Linked DNA regions of Homo sapiens: all the other regions are linked to region 1. A link means that fine-mapping ties the variant in region 1 to the expression of a gene that starts in the linked region. Tissue or cell type: whole blood. Region 1 holds a variant in brackets; each other region holds the start of a gene. All regions are shown on one strand. Distances are between the middles of the regions.

What was found. PIP is the estimated chance that this variant, and not a neighbour inherited with it, causes the effect.
Region 2: it holds the start of CLIC5, and the variant in region 1 is fine-mapped to the expression of CLIC5 in whole blood (INTERVAL, PIP 0.92).
Region 3: ENPP5 starts here. The variant in region 1 is fine-mapped to the expression of ENPP5 in whole blood (INTERVAL, PIP above 0.99).

The regions. Positions count from the first base shown.
Region 1 is chr6:46,394,246-46,402,414 of GRCh38, forward strand. All of the region lies in intron 2 of RCAN2 (regulator of calcineurin 2), which reads right to left. Among named protein-coding and RNA genes, the nearest start is that of RCAN2, 93 kb to the right of the region's middle. The variant A/AACAC (reference allele first, on the strand shown) is at 3,127.
Region 2 is chr6:46,011,709-46,019,877 of GRCh38, forward strand. CLIC5 (chloride intracellular channel 5) reads right to left here and starts at 4,152. Exons shown (of 6, transcript NM_016929.5): 1 at 3,772-4,152. The coding sequence starts at 3,834. It also overlaps the pseudogene RNU6-754P. RefSeq lists enhancers at 3,265-4,109, 4,110-4,954 and a silencer at 3,803-3,852.
Region 3 is chr6:46,167,704-46,175,872 of GRCh38, forward strand. ENPP5 (ectonucleotide pyrophosphatase/phosphodiesterase family member 5) reads right to left here and starts at 3,277. Exons shown (of 5, transcript NM_001290072.2): 1 at 3,105-3,277; 2 at 2,350-2,411; 3 at 1-594. The coding sequence starts at 559. RefSeq lists a silencer at 3,449-3,508.

The DNA.
Region 1 (8,169 bases):
TCTTCAGTAGCAGTAAATCTGGACACGAAGGTGCTTGAAATACAAAGGTCTTAACTGAAGGACATCAGAGTCCTATGATTTGGCATTTGCACAAAGTAAGATGTGCTGAATAACTCCTGAATTACTTTTCATTACTGCCTATGTTAGTTTCACATTTATGACTTTAAAGCTTAAAATGTGGCTGGGCATGCTAGAGAAATAAAAGCATAGAATGCTGTAATTACTGAACAAAGTGGAATGGATAAAGAATTGGTCCAAAAGGCAGGCCCAGTCTTAACTTATAAGTAGAAATTCTTCCTTGACCGAGATATTGCTATACTTTCAATTCATTCCCTCTATCTCTCTTTGCATTTTAAATTTTCTCTATAAAAAGTAGATTACCTAGGACTTTATAGCCTGTAAGGCCTTTTGCTTTTACCCTCAGTGAGATGGGAGTCACTGGAGCATTTTGAGCAAAGGGGAGGGAGGACCTGCTTTACCTTTTAACAGGATTCCTCTCATTGCATTGATCCCTCTCTCACTGCTGTATGGGAATCAAGGCAAAGAAAGAAGACCAATACACAGGCTATTGAAATAATAATAAAGAGATGACAATAGCTTAGTCCAAACAAGATGGAAGCAGTGGACATAGTGAGATAGGAATCTTATATTTTGAAGGAAGCATTAAATGAATGTATTGATGGAGCAGATGTACATTGTAAGAAAAAAACCCATGAATCCCCTGAAATCACTACAAGATTTTCAGCATTAGCAACTAGAAGGAAGAGTTGCTATTTCCTGAGATGGAGAAGACTTGAGAGAAGTTGCCAGGAGTGGTGATAGGGTGTTGGAGATAGATCATGAATTTATTTGACTTCTGACACGTCAAGTTTGAAATGCCTTGACATCAAGTAGGCATGTCAAGTAGAAGATGAATATCCAAGTCAGGCATTCAGGGTGCAACTCAGGCAAGAGACATGCATTAAGGAAGCTGCAGTGCATCTGTGGTGTTTAAAGGCATGAGACATGATAGGGTAAGAGAGGAGGGAAAGATAAGATGCAAGCTGAGTCCTGGGCACTTTAACTTGAAGTTGGAGAAAGAGGAGAAATCAACAAAGGAGCAATAAGGAGCCACAAAGGGAGGTGGAGTCCTAAGAACCAAATGAAGAAGGTTTCAACAAAGGACGAACAACCCATGTGTCTAAGGCTGGTCTCTTAAATATTCTAAACCAATTCACAAATATAATCAAAGTCTTTTACTCCTTTCAAAATAAAATAACACATCTAATAGTAATTACACATTTCAAATCAAAATCTCAAGGCTAATTTGTCAGATACTCTAATATGTCAGATTGTTTCAGTAATATACCTTTAAAAATAAATAACCACAAATAAAATGAATGATTATGAGATGTACTGCTAAACTTAGCACAAAAGCATTAAGGCTTAACGTTAAGGCTAACAGGGTTGGCTCATGTTATCCCTTCTCTACTCCACAGGTTGTAAGGTCATTTTCGCAATCTAGGAGGAAACATTTACTCTATCAGTGGAGCCACATTACAATATACTTATTTACCTGTCAAATTTAATACCAACATATGAGACCTGGCCACTACGTACCTCAAAGCTGATTCTCTCCAAATTCTAACTGAACAAGCTGATCCCGTTCTGATTGTTGAGTTCTGTGTGCAATGTCATTAGGGTACCCCATGCCTATATCTTCCAGCTGGAGTTTAGTTTCACAACCCTGCACGTCACACATTTCCTAGAACATATTTCAAGCTTTACCTTCAATCAATTTTTATTATAACCTTATTTCAACATGTTATCACCTAATTTAGGTAGACGAAATTCTGCGCCTTTAACCAAGTTGCAGTTAATTTCTTTCATGCCTCAACTGGATTCAACTAATGTCTTTTCTACTTGATTGAATTCTGCATTCTTATTTTTTTGGTCTGAATCTTGGTTACAATTTTAGAATCATTTTTATCGACAAGAGAAGAGCTTAAGGTCCATGAAAGTGATGGGACCAAGCACAGGTTGGATTTCTTTATTCCAGTGCATAACACCTAAAGCTTCTGTCCTAGGGTTTGTTTGAATGGTGCTCAGAACTATGAAGGATCCATAGCCTATTCTTACTTAGCTGCGAGAATACCACACAGAAGAGCTTCAGAGTTGGAGGTGAGGGCTAGAGGAACCATTAAAGAGGGCTGATATGTCTCATTTATTCAAAAGACCCGTATTTGACCCTACCATTCGCTGGCACTGTGCTAGGGTTAAGCAGTGTGTTTTGAGATGCGTTTATGTGTGCTTGATACCTGCTCCTTTTGATCTGGTGTAGGCAGGGTTGAGATTCAGCTGTGCCCACTGGCACGGCTGTACTGGTAATTTGCAGCTGGTGTCTATTCTGATTGGTTAGTACTTGTTTCATAAATGCTGTTACATATTATGAATATCATCCATGATGTTAGAGATACTAAAGTAAACAGAATACATTTCTATCTTTTGAAGTTTTTTTGTTTGTTTTAATGATTTCAAAGAGGCATCTATCCCTTCTTATCTCTATTACAACCATCTTGATATCCAAATAGTAAATAGTAATCTTGGCTGGGTGCGGTGGCTCAGGCCTGTATTCTCAGCACTTTCAGAGGCTGAGGCTGACAGATTACCTGAGGTCGGAGTTCGAGACCAGCCTGACCAATATGGTGAAACCCTGTCTCTACTAAAAATACAAAAATTAGCTGGGTGTGGTGGCATGCTCCTGTAATCCTAGCTACTAGGGAGACTGAGGTGGGAGAATCTCTTGAACCCAGGAGGTGGAGGTTGCAGTGCGCCGAGATCACACCACTGCACTCCAGCCTGGGAAACAAGTGAGAAACTCTATTTCAAAAAAAATAAAAAAGTAACCTAGAACATATGTCTGAAGTTACTGTGTTTCACAATATATGCTCTAGTGTGACTGTTTATGTAACATTCCAAAATGGGCAAAATATAGAGATAGAAATAGATTACTGGTTTCCAGGGGAGTGGTAACTACAAAGGGGGGTACCATAGGGGAGTTCCCACGCAGTGATAAACAGCTCTCTATTGTGTCTGTTGTGATTATAATCATTACACAAATCTCCATATAGGATAAAATTTCACAGA[A/AACAC]ACACACACACACACACACACACACACACACACACCACAGTGACTGTAAAAGTTGGTGGAATCTGAGTAAGGTCTGAAGTCTAGTTAAGAGTATTATTCTAATGTCAATTTCCTGGTTTTAATAATGTACTATAGCTAAGTAAGATGCTACCTTTGGGGGAAGCTGGTGAAGGGTACATGAGACTTTTCTGTACTATTTTTGCAACTTTGTATACATCTATAATTATTTTTTAACCTTTTAAAGAGAAAAATGTTATGCATTGATTTAGTTAAAATAATAATAGACCCTTTACATGTAAAAAAATAAATGCCCTATAATATTAAACACTTTTCATTTTATTAGTCAGCTCTCATCCCAAAGTAGTCTATAATGAATGAATGAGTTCTGATGGTCACCTAAGCCATGCAGCCCCACTCAGCTATGAAGTTATCACCACCACATGTTTATTCATTTTAACATGTTTGATTCATATAATTAACACGTGAAAAAATCTTTTAAATTTTGCATTCTCTTTGGTACAGAAATTCTAATACTAGTAAAATATTCTACAGGTAAATAGACTTATTTAAGTGCGCTAACAATAGGCACACTCAGCATAGTTTCTCATGGCCGAAAACTGGAAACAATCAAAATATTGAGAATAGGTGACTTGTTTACTACATTTTGACAGAAACACAGAATTAGCGAAGTGAAGACAATAAAAATGTTATTTCAGAGGAATACTTCATAATTTGGAAAGCTGCTCTCATGTTTTGCTAAGTGAAAACAAATTTAAATAGGGTATACAAATATATATGTATGCATAGGGAAAGAACAGATATTTAAATGTTAATGGTGATTTTTCTCTGTGTTATGGCAAATAACATTGTTTTTCTTCTTTTGACATCTAAATTTTCTAAAATGTCTACAGTGAATATGTATTATGTTTGTAATAAATGTAAGACGAAAAAGCAATGTATATATTATAACCAAGTTCCTCGTAGACTAGTGTTTCTTCCAAACTCTGGTGAGTGAGCCCGTGGAGGTCCAAAGATAATTTCTTAGTGGCCAATTATTATTATTATTATGAGAATTTTTGATGTAGTGTTTTCATTAAGATGCTAACCTTAACCCAGTAATATAGACATGTTCTGGATCATCTTCACGATCTCAGCAGGTATAACAAAGATGGCCACTGCCTATATTTGCTTTTATTTTTATGGCTGCGAGTTTAACAAGCCCCACTGTCCTAATTCTCACAGACCAATGAGAAAAAATAATACAGAGTCAAATGTAACAACATATTTCTGGCTAGTAAAAACCATAGATCCCTGCACAAATTAAAATTTGCAGAATTTCCACTAGAGAAAGTAGTGAATACCAGACATGCCAAACTCGAAAGAACTTGCCCTCAGCTCTCAGTACCCAGGCCACAATGTGATCAGTGATTTAACTTTAGCAAAGAGCATCTTCAGTCATTCCATATTAATGGGTGCATTATAGTGTTTATTTATAGTTTTTACTGTATTTGATTTGTAAATTTGTTTTGGTCTTTTATAAATATATATATATATACATATATATACATAAAAGCAATAAGAATAGTGAGTATGTGTCTATTTTGTTTTGTGTTATACTTATTTAAGGAGCATACTGTCAAAAATGTTAAATCAACTGGAGTCGACAACAATCTTTTTCCTTTTCAGACTGCACATTCCTCAAGTCTGAGAAACATTCTTCTAGAACCATAGCTGTTCCCTGAGTATTAATAAAGTACCTTCAGAAACTACATAAACTCCTGGGCACTAAAATGTCATTTAATCTCATTGATGCAGCTAGTAACAAAATGGGACCAAAGCAGACATGTCTGATGCCAAGATCGCTGATCTTTCTCCTCCAATCCCTAGTAATTCACAACTATTTCTATTTCCCAGGTCATTAGAAGGATAAAAATATTTTAAATTAATAAAAGCTGCTTTGAATGGCTAATACACTTAATTTTTTGTGAGGTATTTGCATTTTCAAAGGAAGGTGCCAGGAAAACTAATACACCTTGCCTGCAATTCCCCCTGTTACAACCCAAATCTGTTAACAGGGGGAACTGCAGGCAAGGTGTATTTGTTTCTCTGGACTGCCTAACCAATTACCACAAATCTGGTGGTTTACAACAACAAAAATGTATTCTTTCACAGTGCTGGAGGCTGGAAGTCTAAAAACAGGGTGTCAGGAGGGTTGATTCCCTCTGGAGACCCTTTGGGTGCATCTGTTTTATGTCTCACTACTTGCTCCTTCCTGCTGGTGGCTGCCAGCAATCCCTCCACTCCTGGCTTCTAGATGAGTTACTCCAATCTCTGCCTTCATTTTTTTCACACCACCTTCTCTTCTGTGTTTCCCACTTCTCTTTCACCTTGTCTCAGGACACTACACTTGTCATTGGATTTAGGGATCACCTTAATCCAGGATGATCTCATCTTGAGATCATTAACTTAATTATATTTGCAAAGACCCTTTTTCCAAACAAGATCACATTCACAGGTTCTGGATGGACATATCTTCTGTTGGGTTGTCATGATCCATACCACTAAGCTGTAAAGTGAACTTTCCTGCACACAAAATCCCTGAGGTGGCTCAGCACTCATGTGTCTCACAGATTACCTCCTCACATAAGACCATGGAAAACCAGAATCACATCTCCTGCATCTGCAAATTCTTCCAGGCTCTGGATCCCACCTCTGGTTTCCACCTCTAGTGTATCTCTATACTCTGCCTCAAAGTGCAATTCCCCACTGCCTTGCCCATTCAGATGATCACTTCTACTGTGGGGTGAGGGGGCTGCCCAGCTTTCACCAATTTATCTCCCTGACATGATCTTCCACTTTCCTTAGCACTTAGTCAAGCCTTCTGGGTCCAGGCTTCCTAGAAAGCTCATTACCAGGTCCCTCTCACCCTCCTTCAGCCTAGTTCCTCAGACTACCATTTATCTTGGACCAGAGATCCAATACTGGGAACTAAACTGTTCTTAGAAGCGAAGGCAGACCAGCCCTGCCTGGAAATCAATCTCTCTCATTAGTTCCCTGGCTGCTGATGCTTTTTTTCTCTTGTCCCTTCCCCAGGATCTGGCTAGTAAAAACCATAGATCCCTGCACAAATTAAAATTTGCAGAATTTCCACTAGAGAAAGTAGTGAATACCAGACATGCCAAACTCGAAAGAACTTGCCCTCAGCTCTCAGTACGCAGGCCACAATGTGATCAGTGATTTAACTTTAGCAAAGAGCATCTTCAGTCATTCCAGATTTGCGTCTGGATGAGGATCAGCATCTCTCATCCACTGGCCCAGAAATTCCAGGGTATTTTCCCCACCTTGCCATGGTGGGAGAGACCGGGCCCAGAGCTCCAGGGGCCACTGCCCCACAGCAGCAGGGTAAAATGGTGGTGCCATTTGTAGCCCTAACATTTGTAAGAAAAGAATGGCTGGGTCTCTATCTTGGTTGCTATTCCCTATGGAAGGCAAGGTGCTTTTTAAAAGACGCCCTTCACAGACCACCCAAATGAGAAACACCTGGGATAGTTGTTAAGCATGCATATTTCTGAGCCTCATTCCAGGAAAGTCTATTAGAATCTCTGGGAAAGGACACAGGTCTTGGCATTTTTAATAAGTTTCCCAGTGATTCTTATACACATTAAATTCTAAGAACCACCAGCCTAGTATAATCAAGAAGGTACAAAGTACAGCCACGTTCCCAGGAGTTAAATTAGACCCAGATGAGGAGCCCAATGTCCACAGTGGGTTGAACATTCTGGGAAAGTTACTGCTTCTTCTGTTCACTCACAAAACTCTTCCCTGGAGCACAAGTTTGCCAACAGGTTTGGATCAGAACCTCATGGACCCAGAATCATTGTCCCTCCTCTGTCCTTCCAACCTAGGCAGGGACCAATCCACAGAACTGTCTCTTTCTGCCTTGCTTTAGGGACTTTGTTGCTGATCACCCCTGGGCCTTTGTCAGGGCCCACAAGGGTCCCCCTACAGTTTGAACATGGGGGAGACAGTAGAGATTCAGGTGCCTTCCCTTGGATTCTTTGTGCAAATAAATCCATCCATCTTCAGAGCTCTAATTATCAAAGGTATTGAGATGTCCTGAGAGAGAGAGGCACAGCAAAAGATCCCTCATACCTCTTCCCCAGAAGAAAGTGTCCTTGCTTGAATTTATATAATAATGGGGACTGACCATGCTGCCCCTCAATTTCAGTGTACTCAGGTCTGTTTCCAAGTAATCTGCGAACTATACGGGTGGAAGTAGCTAGCGTTAATTTAATGTCTATCCTAACTTTTCCCTGAAGCTTTCTAAATCCTCCACAATTGTCAGCACATCTTTAGTTATGTGGCAAACTAACTCTAAACCATAGATATAGTAATAGTAAAAGCAGGTGCCTTCCTTCTGTTCCCATGAGAGCCCCAGAGAAGTAAGACATCTGAGCTTCTGCCTCCATAATGGGGGGAGACTAACTGGAATTCCCCAGACACATCTGATCAAGCCCCTGCAACAGGACACTTGTGAAAGACAGGGCAGAGGCTCCATCACACAGCTTGTGAGCTCAGCCTAAGCAGGCCTGGATGCAAAGCCCATGTCATGGCAGGTCAGCAGGAAAAACACCATCGAGAGTCTGAGATGCATGTAGAAGTACATAGACAAATACAGAAGACATAAAAAACAGTGCTTGTTATTTGGGAAAATGAGTAATGTTTCCATTAAATATTAAGAATGTGTGTAACTGGAAAGCTGAAGCAGCAAAAGTTTAAGCAACAAAGAGGCCTGAAAGAGCTGGATTCAGTTTACCAACCGGCATGGAGTCACTGGGCACTTATTATGTGCTGTGTAAAAATTTGTGTGTGTGTGTGTTGTATGTCCAGGTAAGTATATACGTGTGTATATATGTGTGTGTTGTGTGTGTACACCGTTGGGGCTCAGAAAATGATACCCCGAAGGGAAGGCCTCTGGAGCAGCCTCAGGAGCCTCCTCTACCCTCCTGCCTTCCAGTTGCTCAGTCCCATTCTCCCCTGAGC
Region 2 (8,169 bases), 380 kb before region 1:
CACAGCACATCCTGTGTTTGTCTTTTCAAATTGCTTTCTGTTTTGCTTTTACTTCCTTGCTCTATTTCTTTCAATAAACCACACTCACTGCCATTACCTCTAGCCTGTTGTCCTCCTCTTAGGATCAAAGTCCAAGCTACATATTATCTCATTTACTCTCAAAATATCCCTGCAAGTGAGGAAGGAGCCAGGCCTTTGTTCCCCAAGGCAAATCAGGGACGTGCAGGTCCAGAAAGGTTCAGTCTGCCATGGGACTCATAATATTCAAGTCAGTGTGTTTACAGCAATTTTCAATTTACAAAGTGTTTTCACCTATGTTCTCCCATGGAATCCTCACAGCAAATCTACAATGACAGTATTTTCATAACCAGAATGACCACACATCCTTATTTGCTCCCAAACTATCCTGGGTTATACCTGTGGTTCCAGCCTAATTATTGATATCATTCCCTTTCACTCTCAAAAGTGTCTAGATTTGGACAATAAATTATATGGTCTCCTTATTTATAACCATGCTCTTGTTTTAAGAGGGCCAGTGAGGCTCCTGAAAGTTAAATAATTTGTTCAGGATCATTTAGCTAATTAGAGGCAGAGGCAAGACTTGAACTCAGGTACTGCATCTCCAAATCCCTGCGCCATCCACAGGTATTATGGGACATTAGAATCAGAGTTGACATGATCTAACATTTCTTATTGTAGAAACTAAAAATGTGGGGAAATAATCTCTTAAAAGTCACTGTCAGAATGTTCCCCGAAAGGGAAAGACTCGGAGTACATAGCAGAAATGGGTTAGTCTCCTTGGAAGCATTCTATGAACACATTAGAATGGATTAATAACATAAATAAATGTCACCATGATGGCACTTGAAAGCCTAACTTGGCAAAATAAGGTATCAGGCCTGACATATAGGTATTTGGAAAAGAGCAAGAAATTCAAAGTCTAAACTGCTAGATTTGAGGACTGGATCTGAATGCTATCTGCCATCTACCTTTGGGCATTTTACCTACTTTCTGTGAGCACATGTATTGTTCAACAGAACAGGAGGAATTATCATTCTTAGTTCCCTGGGCTGTTACAAGAAGAGCAAACTGCAGCTCATCAAGTGCTCTGACAGCGAGTCTCATAAGGTACCTGTGAATCCAGTTTATTTGTTTTCTTTATCTTTCACATAAGTGAATCAAGCCTTATAAAGTTGCTGATGATCAAATGAGATAAGGTATTTGAACATACTTATTATGTCCTAATATGCTGCAATCTTTCCTTCTTCTTATCATTATCATTATCAGCAGTAGTAGTAACAGATAATGACTATCAATTGACGTGGGAGACAATTACAATTACATGTCATTGTGAAACTCATTAGGTGACTGTGATTTAGAGTGGTACACCCAGTGGAAACAAGAGGTTGGGAGGTCCTTCCAAGGGGGTGTTGAAAATGACCAAGTCATGACTATAACTGGGTGGGACCCATCCTTCTTGGAAGTCTTCATAGAAACCAACCCACCCTGCCCTGCAGAAAGAGCTTCAGTTACCTGACACCATCAACAAGAAGGCCTTTCTTTTTATGGGGAATCATGTACCTCAGAGAAACTCCAAACTTTGGAAAAGTGTGATTCTGTCAACAAGGATATTGCTTCCCTCAAATGACACAGTTCAAGTAAGGCCTGGGCAGCATCTTTATTTCACAATATTTCTAGCCTTTACTTGTCCCATTTACTTGTAAATGAGAACTGCTAACCTGAAGCTCAAAAAGATGGGGTTGAGGGAGGAGTCAAAACAACTTTCATACCTGATGTTTTGATCTCCCCATCAATCTGGTTTTTGAGCTAGCCATGAAGGCCTGCCTGGCTCTCATTGATTTCCTTTAGGGAAAAAACAAATGACAACACAGTCATTTTAGAATTATTTGGGGAACGCTGCAAATTGTGCAGTAAGGTTTTTATATAAATGGAGAGACTCTCCAACACTGCCAACAAGAAAATTCCAAAGGTGCAGGTAGAATCGGTCTCCACACCTAGGAGTGGGGCAAAGGGCTCCTTTGGTTCTAAAGAACCTATTTGTGTTTCAAATATCTTTCAGAAACTTGACACCTTGAAACTACCACTCTCAAGGAATCTGAGTAAGTCCTAGAATCGCTTTCTTCAAGGAGAGCAGCAAGACTCATCGCTTTGTTAAAGCTCTCCCTATTCACCCCTAGGGCCCAGGCCTGGATGCTGGGGTTCAGAACACCCCCTTGCTGCCCTAAGGTCCAACACTACCCAGCATCAGACGAGAAATGACCTCCTTTATTACCTGGGTCTGCCAAAGGACCTGGAAATCCAGCCTGGGGTGGGGGTGGGGGGAGTCCCAGAAACCAAAGGAGCACACAGGGGCCACAGTGGGAAGAGAACAGGCTGAAGAAAGCAAGTGTCACTAAATGTCAGGTGTAAGCTTGAAAAATAAACACAAAGAATGTAAAACCCAGCAGAAGAAATTTAACAAACCTTTGTGGTAGGCTGGGACAACGGAGACAGATCACGTACCAAGTGTAAAGTAAGTCACATTTTAAGAGTCAGAAAGTACCAAAGACCACAGATTGTTATCAAGGTTTATGTAGATCTCATACTTTTTGCAAACATCTATTTAATTAGCTTGTAGAGAAGGATCTTTTGGGCAAAATAACATTTTCCCAATTCCAGGGAATATTTATGCCTTTTAAATTCTGCCAGGAGGCCCCTGACAGGCACCAGTGACTCTTCCCTTCTCAGCGATCTGCATATTTCTAGGGAAACTTTGCACTGAGAGAGTTTTCCCCCTTTGTGAAAGGTCTTGGCGCCCAGGCAGTCCCCGACTTCCCCTCCCCCAAGTCCTGGCGACTGTTTCTGCTCAGCCCTGGAGGCTACTCTCCCGCAGCCTCAGGTTTCCCTACTTCTGCAGCGTCGGCACCAAGGGCTGATCAAATGTTTCTTTCTCCTTACACCGGCGGACCGGGAAACGCCGCCGCAGCCTCGCCTCCATCCTTCCTCCTACAGGTTGCAAATAAAGTACAGCAGCTCTGACATTAGGCAGTTTCTGTCCAAGGAGCAAGGTGACTTCATTTAATTTGCACTGTGCTCCTTCATCCCTGTCTGCATCAGGTTGAACGGGAGGCTCTCCCTACTACCAAACGCCTAACATTTCCTTGATACTGCCTTGAAAAATCATGATTATGACAAAAATAATAACGTCGGAGAATGGAGTGCTTGTTTTCTGCTTTGCAAGTCACCAAGCAAGAAAACACTTTTGTCTCCTTGGCTTTTATTTTAGGATCTCTGAGCGAAAGAGAGAAAGAGAATTTTAAGAAATGTCATTTTCGCTTTGCCAAAGATCATTGTGTCAATAACGTTTCTCTCCCATTCCTCCCCCTCCTCCCGTTTTAAAGGAAAGGTTCACGGGTCCAGCCAGGTTTCTGCCGCATCCCGACACCTGGAGACGTCTTTCAGGACCAGCCTGAATCGCGTCCGGGCTGGGCTCTGGACTCGGACTCGCAGCGGTGACAGCGGAGGCGGGGACGGGGGTGGACAAACTGCGGATCAACTCTCCGAGAAGACGGCCACCTGCCGGAACCTGCCTTCCTCCATTCCGCCCAGGAGCCTCGCAGCGGGGCGCTGGCCTGCGGAAAGGCCACGGGGGAGCACAGGGCTCCGCGCCGCCCTCCTGGGAGGGTCCGGAGTCCAGCGCACCCCGAGCCCTGGTGGGTGAGCCCGGCGGGAGGCGCGGCAGGTGCGGCGGGAGACTGGACCCCGACCTACCTTCACAAAGAGCTCGATCTCGGGGTCCCTGTCGTCCCCGTTAGCTGTCGCCGAGTCTGTCATGCCGTTGGCGCCCGGGGCTACCGTCCCGGGCCGGGGAGGCGCCACCTCTGCAGCACCTGGGCCAGCACTCTGCGCTCCTGCCGCTGCCCAGCGGGGCTCCTCTTCAGGGCGGTGTTTAATTTTTCACAAAACCATCTATTCTCCAGCCCGAGCAGCGGGGTCTGAGAGATCAGTGTCCCAGATGCTCACATGAAAAGGAGCGAAGCCGGGAGGAGGCGGGGGGCCACGGGGAAAGCCGGGTTAAGGGAATGACAACAGGTCGTGGGAGCAACAAGTGCCGGGCTGCCCGGAGGTGTCACAGGATCCGCGACTGTCAGCGATCCCGCCGCCGCCAACGCGCCCAAAATAGCCGGCGGCTGCAGGGCGGGGTCAGCCGGGCGGGGACGCGGCGGGGACACCCCGGCAGCTCGGGCCTGGGCCGGGCCACGGCCCCCCGCCCCAAGACCCCGCAGGGCAGGAGGCGGAGACAGAGCTGGTCCTGGCAAAGCCACCAAGGCCAAGAGGATGTCCTGGGGGCGGATAATGAGGCGAAGGCAGAAAGAGTCGAGGAGAAGGGGAAGGGGAAGAGGAAGGGGAAAGGGGAAGGGGAAGAGGAAGGGGAAAGGGGAAGGGGAAGAGGAAGGGGAAAGGGGAAGGGGAAGAGGAAGGGGAAAGGGGAAGGGGAAGAGGAAGGGGAAAGGGGAAGGGGAAGGAAGAGAGGAGATGGCTCTCAAGTCTTCTGTTTCTTTAATAAAGCGTCAGCTCCTCCGAGTTACTCCACTACCAGCCTTACCCACTTGGAAAGCCCTTCCTGTCTTAGTGATGCTCAGAACCCCCACCAAAAGGGGCATTTGCCATCCTTGGGCTAAGCAAAAGGAGAGTAGGGTGCTGGGGACGGGCAGGGCAGGGCAGGGGTGGCTCCTGGGGCAGAGGGGTGAGTCAACCCGGTCAGGTGCGGCTTCCATGCCTTTCAGCCTTCTGGGTTTGTTTATTTTTCTTCTCCCTTCTTTCATTTTCTTTCTATTTCTTCCTTTATTTTCTGATCTTACTTCATTCCCGTTCTCTTCTGGTTGTTTTAGTGAAGTAGGATGCAAACACAGAAAAGATGCACATATCTTAGGTGTATGCCTCAATGAATTTTCACAATCCAACCCACCCATGTAACGAGCGCCAGATGAAGAATAAAATGTTAGCCACAGCCCTAGAAGCTCCTCCTGCTCTCTCCTCTCCACATCTTTTCTCCCGTCTCCACTGTCCCAGGGTAACCATTATTCTGGCTTGTAGCAGCATAGGATCTTTTTGCCTGGAATGTTGGTGTCTGGCTTCTTTCGCTCATTACTATGTTTGTGAGATTCATCCATTGTGCTATGTGTAGTTGTGTATCATCCATTTTCACCGACACACTTACTTATTCATTCTTCTGTCAATGGACATTTGTGCAGGTGACTATCATGACTACTCTGTCACGAACATTCTCTCTATCAAACATCTTTTGGTTGGATTCACAGACACTTTTCTCTTGGATGTATACTTAGGAGTGGACTTGCTGAGTTGTAGTGTATAAGAATGCTCTCCTTGTGTAAACACTGCCATAGGTTTTCTAAAGTGGTTGCACCAACAGACATTCCCACCCTTCAGTTCTTTAAAAAATAATTATTGAATGTTTTGCACCAGAATCTGGTGGAATTCTCTTTGTCTTCTTTGCCTTCTCTTTAATTAATCCTGTTTGTGCTATGTCCTTCCTTACTAAAAACATGTATTTGTTTAATAGCTTTATTAAAAAATTTATCGCTTAATAAAAAAATAAGTAATAATACTTATTATGTGCTAGGCAAAAATGTTGAGCACTTTACATGTGTGAACTTGTATAATATTTACAAATAGTATAATGATCCCAATTTTACAAGTGGGGAAACTGAGACATGAAGTATTTAAGTAACTTATCCCTAGTCATTCAGCTAGGAAATGGTGAAGTCAGGATTTAAACCCAGACAGACTTGAGCCTGTCCTCTCAACTGCTCTACAAACTGCTTTTCTTAGTGCACACTATGGAAGTGCACACTTTGAGGAAACAAAGGCATGGTTTTAACGGTCTTAACAGAGATCAAAATCCCTTTCAGAATAATAGTTACATGAAATGAAAACTAAGGCTGCCACATGAATTGGGAAGATGAAGGAGCTATACAAGCTGTCACGTAAAGATACTATTTACCATGGTTGGGGTGAGGAGAGGAAAAGGCTTCATGGAGCAAAAGGCACTTTAGCTGAACCTTCCTGAAAGGTCAGGCATCTGATAGGCAAAGAAAAGGGAAAGATGTCCTCACTACCCTTTATGGCAGGCTGTGTCCCCACAGACTCTCAGTGCAAATTCCTCCTTCCTGAAGAAAGCAGTCACCAAGCCCAACGTGCAACTCTCTTGGTACATTATAACTTAATCAAGGTGATGTTTAATTGCTTTCCTCCTGCTTGGCTTCAGGCTTACATCACCAAAGCCTTTAGAGAAACAGTCACCTTCACAGCTGTACATTCTGCACCAATGACTACATACTTTAGGGAAGGACCAAGGTTACAGAGGGAGACTGGTGCCTTCGCTGCATGATGCACAGACTCAGAACATCCCTGCACTGAAGTGTAGGCAATATTCTTAATGGCAATGTGGCAGTAGCAAATAAAATTATATGCATAAAATGTCTTCGAGGGTTTTGGTTTTTTGTTTTTTGTTTTAATGAAAAATGTGTTACACGTATTTTCGATCATTTCCTTGGCTATGATCTAAACAATGTGTGGTATGACTTCTCTTTCCTTAATCCCAAACCTATCAGAGTTAACTTTCATTTTATCTTCTCCAAATATCTACTGCTATTGTAAATTTGGACAGATCTCTTTCAATAACATTTTATAGGAAATATCTCCCATTTGGACATCCCTGCAGATAACTTATAGTTTTGATATTATAAAGCTTCATGCTGCAAAAAAAATAATTCTTCTTTGGTCATAAACTATTTCTGTGCATATTTTCCATTTTCAATTTCATATTATGCCTTAGCTCAAGATAAAAGGACTTTACTTTGTACCCTTTAATGTTAAAGAATAATTGGTTAGAGTCAATTCTAGCTTTGTCTGGAGAAAAACACTATATGTCTAATTCCAGCCCATAGTTTCACAAATGTGGTGCAAGTTTTGAATAAATTTTTACCAGGAAAGTACTTTAAAAACACATTTAGTGCTCACTTTGGCAGCACATATTCTAAAATGGAAACCATACAGAGAAGATTGGCATGGCTCCAATGAAAGGGTGACATGCAAATCTGTGTGACATTCATATTTTTGTATGACTGTTGAAAGTGAAAACTATAACATATCTGATAGCATTTTTAATATATTTAGATTCAATAATATGACCACTGCAGCATAAAGGGTAAAGGGCAAGGAATTTATACAGTTGTAAGGTTTATATACTTTACTTGATATAGTAAACTCTAAGTAGCCTGAGAAAAACTAGGTATGTGTATTGTAATCCCTAAAGAAACAGCTATTTGAGTTATAAAACAAAAGTATAGTAAAAAAAAAAAAGCCAACAGATAAGCTAAAATGGAATGACAAGAAATATTCAAATAATCTAAAAGGCAGAAAAGAGGAAGAGAATAGAAAACTGATAATAAAATGGTACACCTAAATATAACCATATTAATACTTAAGCTAAATATAAATGGTCTAAGCACATAAATTAAAAGCTGAAGATTGTTGGATTGCATAAAAAAGCAACAAGAAGACCCAACTATATGCTGTTACAGAATTCACTTCAAACACAATGTTATTGATAAATTAAAAGTAAGAGGATGGAAAAGCCCCTGCCATGCAAACACTAATCAAAAGAAAGCTGGGCCGGGCGCGGTGGCTCACGCCTGTAATCCCAGCACTTTGGGAGGCCGAGGCGGATGGATCATGAGGTCAGGAGATCGAGACCATCCTGGCTAACAAGGTGAAACCCCGTCTCTACTAAAAATACAAAAAATTAGCCGGGCGCGGTGGCGGGCGCCTGTAGTCCCAGCTACTGGGGAGGCTGAGGCAGGAGAATGGCGTGAACCCGGGAAGCGGAGCTTGCAGTGAGCCGAGATTGCGCCACTGCAGTCCGCAGTCCGGCCTGGGCGACAGAGCGAGACTCCGTCTCAAAAAAAAAAAAAAAAAAAAGAAAGCTAACCTCTAAATTAATATAATTATTAATAATATATAAACATATATTAATGTAAGTCTATTAGACAAAATAGACTTCAGAAAAAGGAAATTATCAGGAATAGAGACATTACATAATAATAATAATAATAACAGAGCCAGCTCACCAAGAAGATAGAACAA
Region 3 (8,169 bases), 230 kb before region 1:
AATAGAGAAGACCAAGATTTATGGGCTCTTTTGACGTAAACCATTCAATAATTTTGGCAACTCTATCTTCAAATGAAACTGACTCATTGTAAGGCATGTAATGAGTAGGAAAGCGCTTATGTATTTTTACATCTGTTCCGGGCCACATGGCTGCACCACTAGTATGTCCTGCCCTCTGGTTTGTGATCCATATTGGTGTCGCTTCTTCCCAAAACTTGGAATCATAAATATTCATGTGATCCAAGGAGAAAGATTTGTTCCGAATAGGATCAAACATATCATTTGCAACAATCCCATGATTCTCTGCAAAGAGGCCAGTTACCAAAGTATAATGGTTAGGGTAGGTTTTTGTAATAAAAACATTAGTAACTTGCTTCACGTGAACACCATATTTCATAATATAATGAAAATGGGGCGTTGGAACTTTATATAAGTAATCCCAACGGAATCCATCAAAAGAAACTAGTAGAACCTTTTGCTGGTCTGGTTGGAGAGAAAAGGTGGTTGAAAGACTCAGTGCAGCAAGTATGAAGGACACCAAGAGAAATTTCGAAGTCATTTTCAAAGTACTTGATCAGTTCAGTGTAAGATAATCTGTAGAATAAACATATAGAAATTAAAGGCAATAATTTTGTTTTGTATACTTTACCCCAAACTCAGAGTAACAGTGCTTAGCAATCCTAGTTATATTCATAAATCACAGCCTGGAAGAATTATGTCACAGAACTCCGTATTAGATAAGAGACCTGGGGCTAAATGAATAATAAAGCTAATAAGTTTAGCTGCATTTAAACAACTTTTTCACTTCTGAGAATTTATCTAAATATCCCTCAAAGGAATTATTTAAGTGAGCTCTTCAACAGCATTTTAAAATATGACATCATTTACATAAAACTTTTAGAAACATTTTCAGGTTGATCCAGACTTTTGACTTCTGGTCAGAAACTTTTTTATAGTCAAATACCTGTGAACATCCTTAACATTATGGCTAGAGCAACTATGGCAACCTAGCAACAATGAAGTATCATTAGCAAATCGAATAATGGTGCATATACATATATATTATATATATATGTATATGCACACTTCTATTTTCAACCCCTATGTTTGGTTAATCACAGACAAAAGATGTATTACTAAAGAGAGAGGAAAATAGATGAATTTGGTTTCTTGAAGTGAAATAACATTTGTGACATCCAGATATATTTATTGAAAAGTAATCTGCATTCATTTATTAATAATCAAATCACAGCATTCGTTGAACTAAATAATTAGATTCTAAACTAAATATTAACAGAAATATAATTCTGAAATTTGTTGTTGACTTTCCTAATGTTAAAATTTGTCAAAATTTAATCTTATCATTGATAGGTGTAGTAAAAGCACTTCCCTGGTTTAAAGCTCTGTGAATCAAGGTTGCTGGTCTTTTCCCCTAATCTGTGTATATTTCTAAAATACTTTCATTCTATTGAAGAAAGCTAATAAGACGCTGTATGGATAAACAATAGATATGTAAATTTTGTCAGTTTTCATCAGGCGTGCACATCCAGCAGGGATCTTTTGTTCTCTCATTTTTCTACCCATTCCTGCATGAAGGTATTTATAAACCCACCAAAACTTAGATCAAACCACACTTGTACAAATAAATCTCTTGAAACTGCCTTTTGATATCTTCCTAAGCTGAAGACTTCTTTTTTTTTTTTTTTTGAGAGGGAGTCTCACTCTGTTGCCCAAGCTGGTGTGCGGTGGCACGATCTCAGCTTACTGCAACTTCCGCCTTCCGTGTTCAAGCAATTCTCCTGCCTCAGTCTCCCAAGTAGCTGGGACTACAGGCGCCCGCCACCACACCCAGCTAATTTTTGTATTTTCAGTAGAGACAGGGTTTCGCCATGTTGGCCAGCCTGGTCTCAAAACTGCTGACCTCAGGTGATTCACCCTTCTCGGCTCCCCAAAGTGCTGGGATTACAGGCATGAGCCACCGCAGCCGGCCTGAAGACATTTTTAAACTTCAAAAATATATCCTGTTTCACCTTGCTGTATTATAGGTACAGGTAAATAAAAACTACTTGGCATGCTTGCTTTGCTTTCAGAAATACAAGGTATATGTACATTGTGGGTATTCGCTGAGGGCAATAAATTCTGTTTTGCTGGTTTTAAACTGTGTTTTCACCATACCTAGACATTTCTTAAACTGAAATTGTTTTAGGTATTGGTCTCAAGATGATAGCTCAAATGTCATATTTAAAAACGATTTCTTGGATGGCAATACTCTCTCTGATTCTGGAAGGAACATTAAACACAGTTGCAGCAAGGAATAGCAAATAGGTTACTGCAAATATATTTACTCACCTATCTGGCTATGGATGGTAGTTGCTCTCTCTGTCCTTTCTCCCCCTAATTTTCTCTCCCACCTTTTTAAAACAAGGAAGGCTAGTATCAACCAAATGTAATTTAAGGCTAAAAGCAGAGGAAATAAACTACATGGAACACCTCATTTTCATCTATCTTAGCAAATTAATTCGGCACATGTGTAAGCAGGAGAAAACTGCTTTCTTGGGACCAACAAAAGTAAGCAAAGATTAAGTGTTGTCTAAAGCTTAGGAATGTTTGGCAAGAAGACTCAACATCACATCCATGACACAGAGCAATAAACAGAGGTGGGGGGTGGGGAATGAAAACAATCAGAATTTTTTTTTTTTTCGTGCACAAAATGCTGCACAAAACAGTGGAATCCCTGGATCTGGCTCCACATTTCATTGAGTACTTTCCAGTTCTTTCTCCCCTCCAACCCTTCCTCCACAAACAGACTTGGAGAGCAGGAAGGACGGGGCACCGATTAAACGGAAGAGGGAAAGTGCAGAAGGAGTAGGTTTGTGTAGCTCGGGTAGACGTCAAGGGCGGGGGTGTCCATCTTCTCCACCAGGATTCCATCCTAGCCACCCAGAATGGTCGCGGCGTAGGTTATGTTCCCAATTCCCAGTCATCCCGCCCACCGAGGCCTGGGCTTCTTAGATGTGCAGTGGCAAGGAGGGGACGTTGCTTTAGGGACCCAGAGGAGCAGTGTGGGTTCCCGGGAGGGAAGCCACCCACGCCCCTGGACTCACCCTCGCAGCGATCCGTTCAGTCCGTATTAGTTTGGAGCAACGGGAGGGAGGGTCTGGAGGAGACTCCCTCGGGCGCGCCGCGGGTAACGGCGGGAGGGTGACTGGAGGAACGCCCCCGGAACGCGCAGGAGCTCACCTGCGCTCAACTCTGGAGCGGAGCACCTGACCGCGCCGCTTCCCCGCCCCGCCTCCTGGCTTCTATTGGCTGCTGCAGAGATAGTCACTTCTGCCTGGGTTGCCCCCGAAAGCCAGGCTCCCAGGAGTAGCTGCACGGCCTGTCAATCAGCGGGGGCAGGGGCGGGCGCTGCCTGGGTTTGGAGGGTGGAGGGGGAGGGGACTCCCGGGGGCAGGGACCCATCTGGTAGGGCGAAGGCGTGGGATGGCCAATTGCTTGGTCACACACAAAACCTTCCGGCAACGTGCCTTTTCCAGGGGACCAGCTGTGCTGGAGTCAGTGATGCTGAGAGATTATTGCGTGTTACCCCAATGGTGGGTGTACTCTAACAGTCACTGTTTTTTGTTTAAAAGCGACTTGTATTCTCTGATTTCTTATCCCAGGCTTTTTTCCTTCCCCCGCCCCCCGCCCCCTGCCTTGTCACGAATTGGCGATGGGGCACACCATGGGCTTTGCTCTGAGGAACACCTGCACACCCGAGGATGCCAATGGGACGATGAAGTTTCATTCTTTTTATTAGTGGGTGTTATCTGCTTTACCTCAGAAAGAATTTATTAACCTAGTCAACTCTGCAGCCCCAACGTTTGCAGTCCAGGTTTTTGCAATTGAGGTCCCTGAGGTATATTTGTGGTGTACCTAGCATGGCACCTGAAATTGTGCGAATTAAACCAAGACAGGTTCAGAATTAGGTTAATTTGCACAGGAGAGAGGCTGAACAGCCACCCTCTCTGGTGGTGGCATCCGAGCTCCAGACTCTGTTTCTACCTTTGTTTGCAAAGTAAACATTAAAACTACAAACATCAGGCCTGATTACTCTTTCAGAAAGCCTTCAGTGCTTCTTGTGTGTTAGTGCCCCTATTTTGTCTTTTTCCGTACTGTAGTGGATTATTTTCTCAGTTTTTTTGGGATAATCAATGGCATTTTTAGGCCTGAGGGAGTGTAGGCAGGTACTTAGTTTGCCAGTATGATCCCAACTGTCTTTACCATAAATTATAGCAGTGATATCAAACTACCCTGAAAGAATTTGTCCATCTACACAATCCCAGCTAGAATTCTGACCTAATTAGAATTCTAGTTCTATCTGCAGTAGGCAATAATATCAGGTTGATTGTTACAATGTAAGTTTAACATCTAATTAGCTGGTAAAACTGGGAGCATATCTGCAATGGTGGTTTTGGCTCCTGCCCGGAGCTCGGATCCCTTGTCTGGTGTGCTGGAGCTTTAAAGTGAATAGAGATATCTGTTGATATTTAATTAAGCCATGCAAACATTTTGGTCATAGCTTTTTCTCTGTCTGCTTCTAATAGAGGGACAATCTCAACCCCAAACATTGTTACCTCCTAACTGGGTCATCCCATCCCGAAGGGCATCTGGGCACTCTTCCATGGCCTTTTATTCGTGGTAACTTGAGTTTATGGTTTTCAACACGTGGGATGGGGATTAAGAGGGAGGCTGGTTTCTATGTTTAGTGAGACCCAAACACAATGAAGTTGAACAAGTTGTTCCAATTCCCCAAAGCCCTGTCCTTTGAAATTGCCCAAACTTGGAACAGAGTGGTCCAATCTTGTAAGTCCTTGTCCCCCAGAATAGGTCAACTCTGTGCTCTCCCAAAACACTCAAAGGACAATGTACGCTTATCAGAGAGCAGGAGTGGTGAAAATGGGCCTGACTTTTGTTCGGATCACTGAACATTGTTGGACTCTGTTTGGATGACAACCTGCTTTGCTCTGCAAATTTTATGGAAGTTATGATTATATTCACCAGCTATTCCTGTGAAATAGGCATGGTACAGCTGGTAACCACAGTGCACAACACAGAAAAGTGCTCATAAGACTGCCAGATTCCTCCCAGAAGTCCATATAATGATATCTAATGTTCACCTGATAGGCTTGCTATTACCTTATGTTGTTCATGGGGAGAAAGTCTGGTTTACATAGTATAGAGGAATGAATGTAAAACATGAGATTCCTGCTCCCACATCTGCACCTGCCCTCCTGTCTTATTGTTGCCTCAGTATCTGTCTATTTGCAATAGGTTTTCAGAAAGTTTTAGCAGCAGAAACCACAACCTGCTATTGACTGTAACTATTCTTTTATTCTCTGTTATTAAATTAGTGGAATTCTAATTGAATAATAGTGTAACAGAATAACCAACTTCTTTCTTTCAAAGGTTTTGGGGTCAGGTGGGGAGGGAGATCCCTCTGCCTCCCCAAGGAAGTCTAATACAGGTTGAGAGAGGGACAATTTTCTTCGTCAGGGGCTGGAAGAGCTTTGTGCTAAAACTGAAAAGGGATCTGTTCTTTAAGAAACAACCAGAACTGGCTCTACCACAGAAGTCTTGTTTTTCAGAACTAGACTTCATGATAGGAAAAATAAACACATAATTTTACAATTAAAAAATTTTAAAGGTGCATTCCAGTACATTATACCACAAATGACTAAACTAAAAGAAAGTTCATCTTTTAATCCTTTGTAGAACATTCTGCAAAATGTGGGTCTCACATATTCAATGGCCATAGATAGGAACCACTGGGATTCTGCTTCTGCACTGCTCTTAATTCATGATAAACAGTGGTCTTCACTAATCTTGACTCATTAGCAGAAGTTCAGTCCAATGAGTGAAATGTTGAATTATAGAATAGTCAAAAACTTAGCCCAAGAATTTTTATGCATATTAATAAATTAGGCTTCTAGTGATATGCTTGAACTAATTAGAATGAATTTTGTAGAAGCAATTATTATGCTTTTATCCTCAGAAAGCTTTATATAAGTCAAATATAAACCTATTTGTATTGTTGTATTCTGTAAATTGTATTCATAGTGTTTTAGTTCTAGGACTGCCTTAACAAATTATCACAAACTGGGTGACTTACGACAAACAGAAATGTATTCTCACATAGTTCTGGAGGTCAGAAGTCTGAAATCAAGATGTATTCAGGGCCATGCTCTCTCCGAGACTCTGAGAAGAATCCTTGCTTGGCCCTAACAGCTGCTGGGGATTCTGGTATTCCTTGGCTTGCTGCAGCCTAGCTCCAATCTCTGCCTCTCCTGTCACAGGATGCTCTACTCTGTGTGTCCCTGTGTCACGTGGCCTTCTTATAAGAACACCAGTCATTGGGATTAAGGCCCTCTTCAGCCCAGTATGGCTTCATCTAAATTTAATTACATATGCAAAGATCCTACTTCCAAATAAGGTCACATTCTGAGGTTCCGGGTGAATGTGTATTTCGGAAGGACACTTATTCAACCCAGTATATATAGCTAGCAGAAAGTTTAATTTTATGGCCCAGCCTAGATCAAAAGTTGATGGATTACTAATAAAATGGCTCAAATCAAGGTAACTGACAACATCTGATACTGACAAGGATTCAGAGCTATAATATATTGCTGGACTATCATACACTGCTGGTGGGAATGGACTTCCACTATGGAAGTCAGTTTTGAAGTTTCTTATAAAGTTAAATATACACGTGACATACAACCCAGGAATCTCACTCCTGAGTATTTATCTAAGAGAAATGAAGACAGACGTCCACTGAAAAACCGGTCAACAACTTTTTACAGCAGCTTTATTCATAATCATGTAAAGCTAGAAACCATCCAAATGTCCCTCAACTAGTGAATAAACAAATTGTAGTGTGTCCGTAAATGCAGTACTGTTTGGCAGTAAGAAGGAATACAGAACTCATGCATGCAACAACATGGATGAATCTCAAAAGCGTTTTTCTAGGTGAACGAAGCCAGACACAAATGGCCATACACTGTGTGATTCTGTTTATATGATATTCTAGAAAGGGCAACAATGGAAATAGAAACCAAATCAGCATTTGCCAAGGACTAGGGGTGAGGGGAGGGGATTGGCTAGAAAGGGGCACAAAGAATTTTTTTATGTGATAGAATTTTGATTGCTTTTGTAGTCACATCACTAAGTTTGTCAATATTCAGAGAACTATGTGCCTAAAAATGTTTAATTTTACTGTGTGGAAATTATACCTCAGTAAACAGCAGCAACAATAAATAAACCCTACCCTGCGATAATACCTCACACCTCACCAAAGTTCACAAATTGGTGCTGGTGGTGTTTGACTCTCAGTGGCCTTTCCTGTGTGTACGGGTGTATACCAGTTCTTCCTGCAGGGTGTGAGTGCTTGCAAGTGCAGGAGCTCCACGGGGCCTGCTCTGCTGGGTGTCATTCCTTTTCCCTCATGAATGAAGTCAGGAAACTATGAAGTAAAACCAAAACAAGGCTAAACAATTATTTTCTTTTTCTTTTCTTTCTTTCTTTCTTTTTCTTTTTCTTTTCTTTTTTTTTTTTTTTGGGATAGAGTCTTGCTCTGTCGCCCAGGCTGGAGTGCCGTGGTGTGATCTTGGCTCACTGCAACCTCTGCCTCCCAGATTCAAGCAATTCTCCTGCCTCAACCTCCCGAGTAGCTGGGATTACGGACACGCGCCACCACACCAGGCTAAATTTTTATATTTTGCGAATCACAAAGTCAGGAGTTCGAGACCAGCCTGGCCAACATGGTAAAACCCCGTCTCTACTACAAATATTTTCTAGGCCATAACTGAATGTCATTTGTTGAATAACTAACTCAGTGCAGGATGCAGTCATATAGCAGGAGAGATAGTCATCTTTTGGTGTTGGTTTGAGGCCTATTTTGTAAGACATATTCTCAGGAGCCAAATACGAAACTGCACATGTGTTTGTGGTATATGGGGTGAAAACATTTTGTTAAAACCACATTCTCAGTTCTTTGTAAAGCACATAACACCCCTTAGATGCCTGAACATACTTAGTTTAACATCACTATTTAAAAACTTATTGGCTCCTTATGGGTATTGTAATTCTGTAAATTTACTAGCAGTGGGGGAGGACCTAAAAATATTGTCC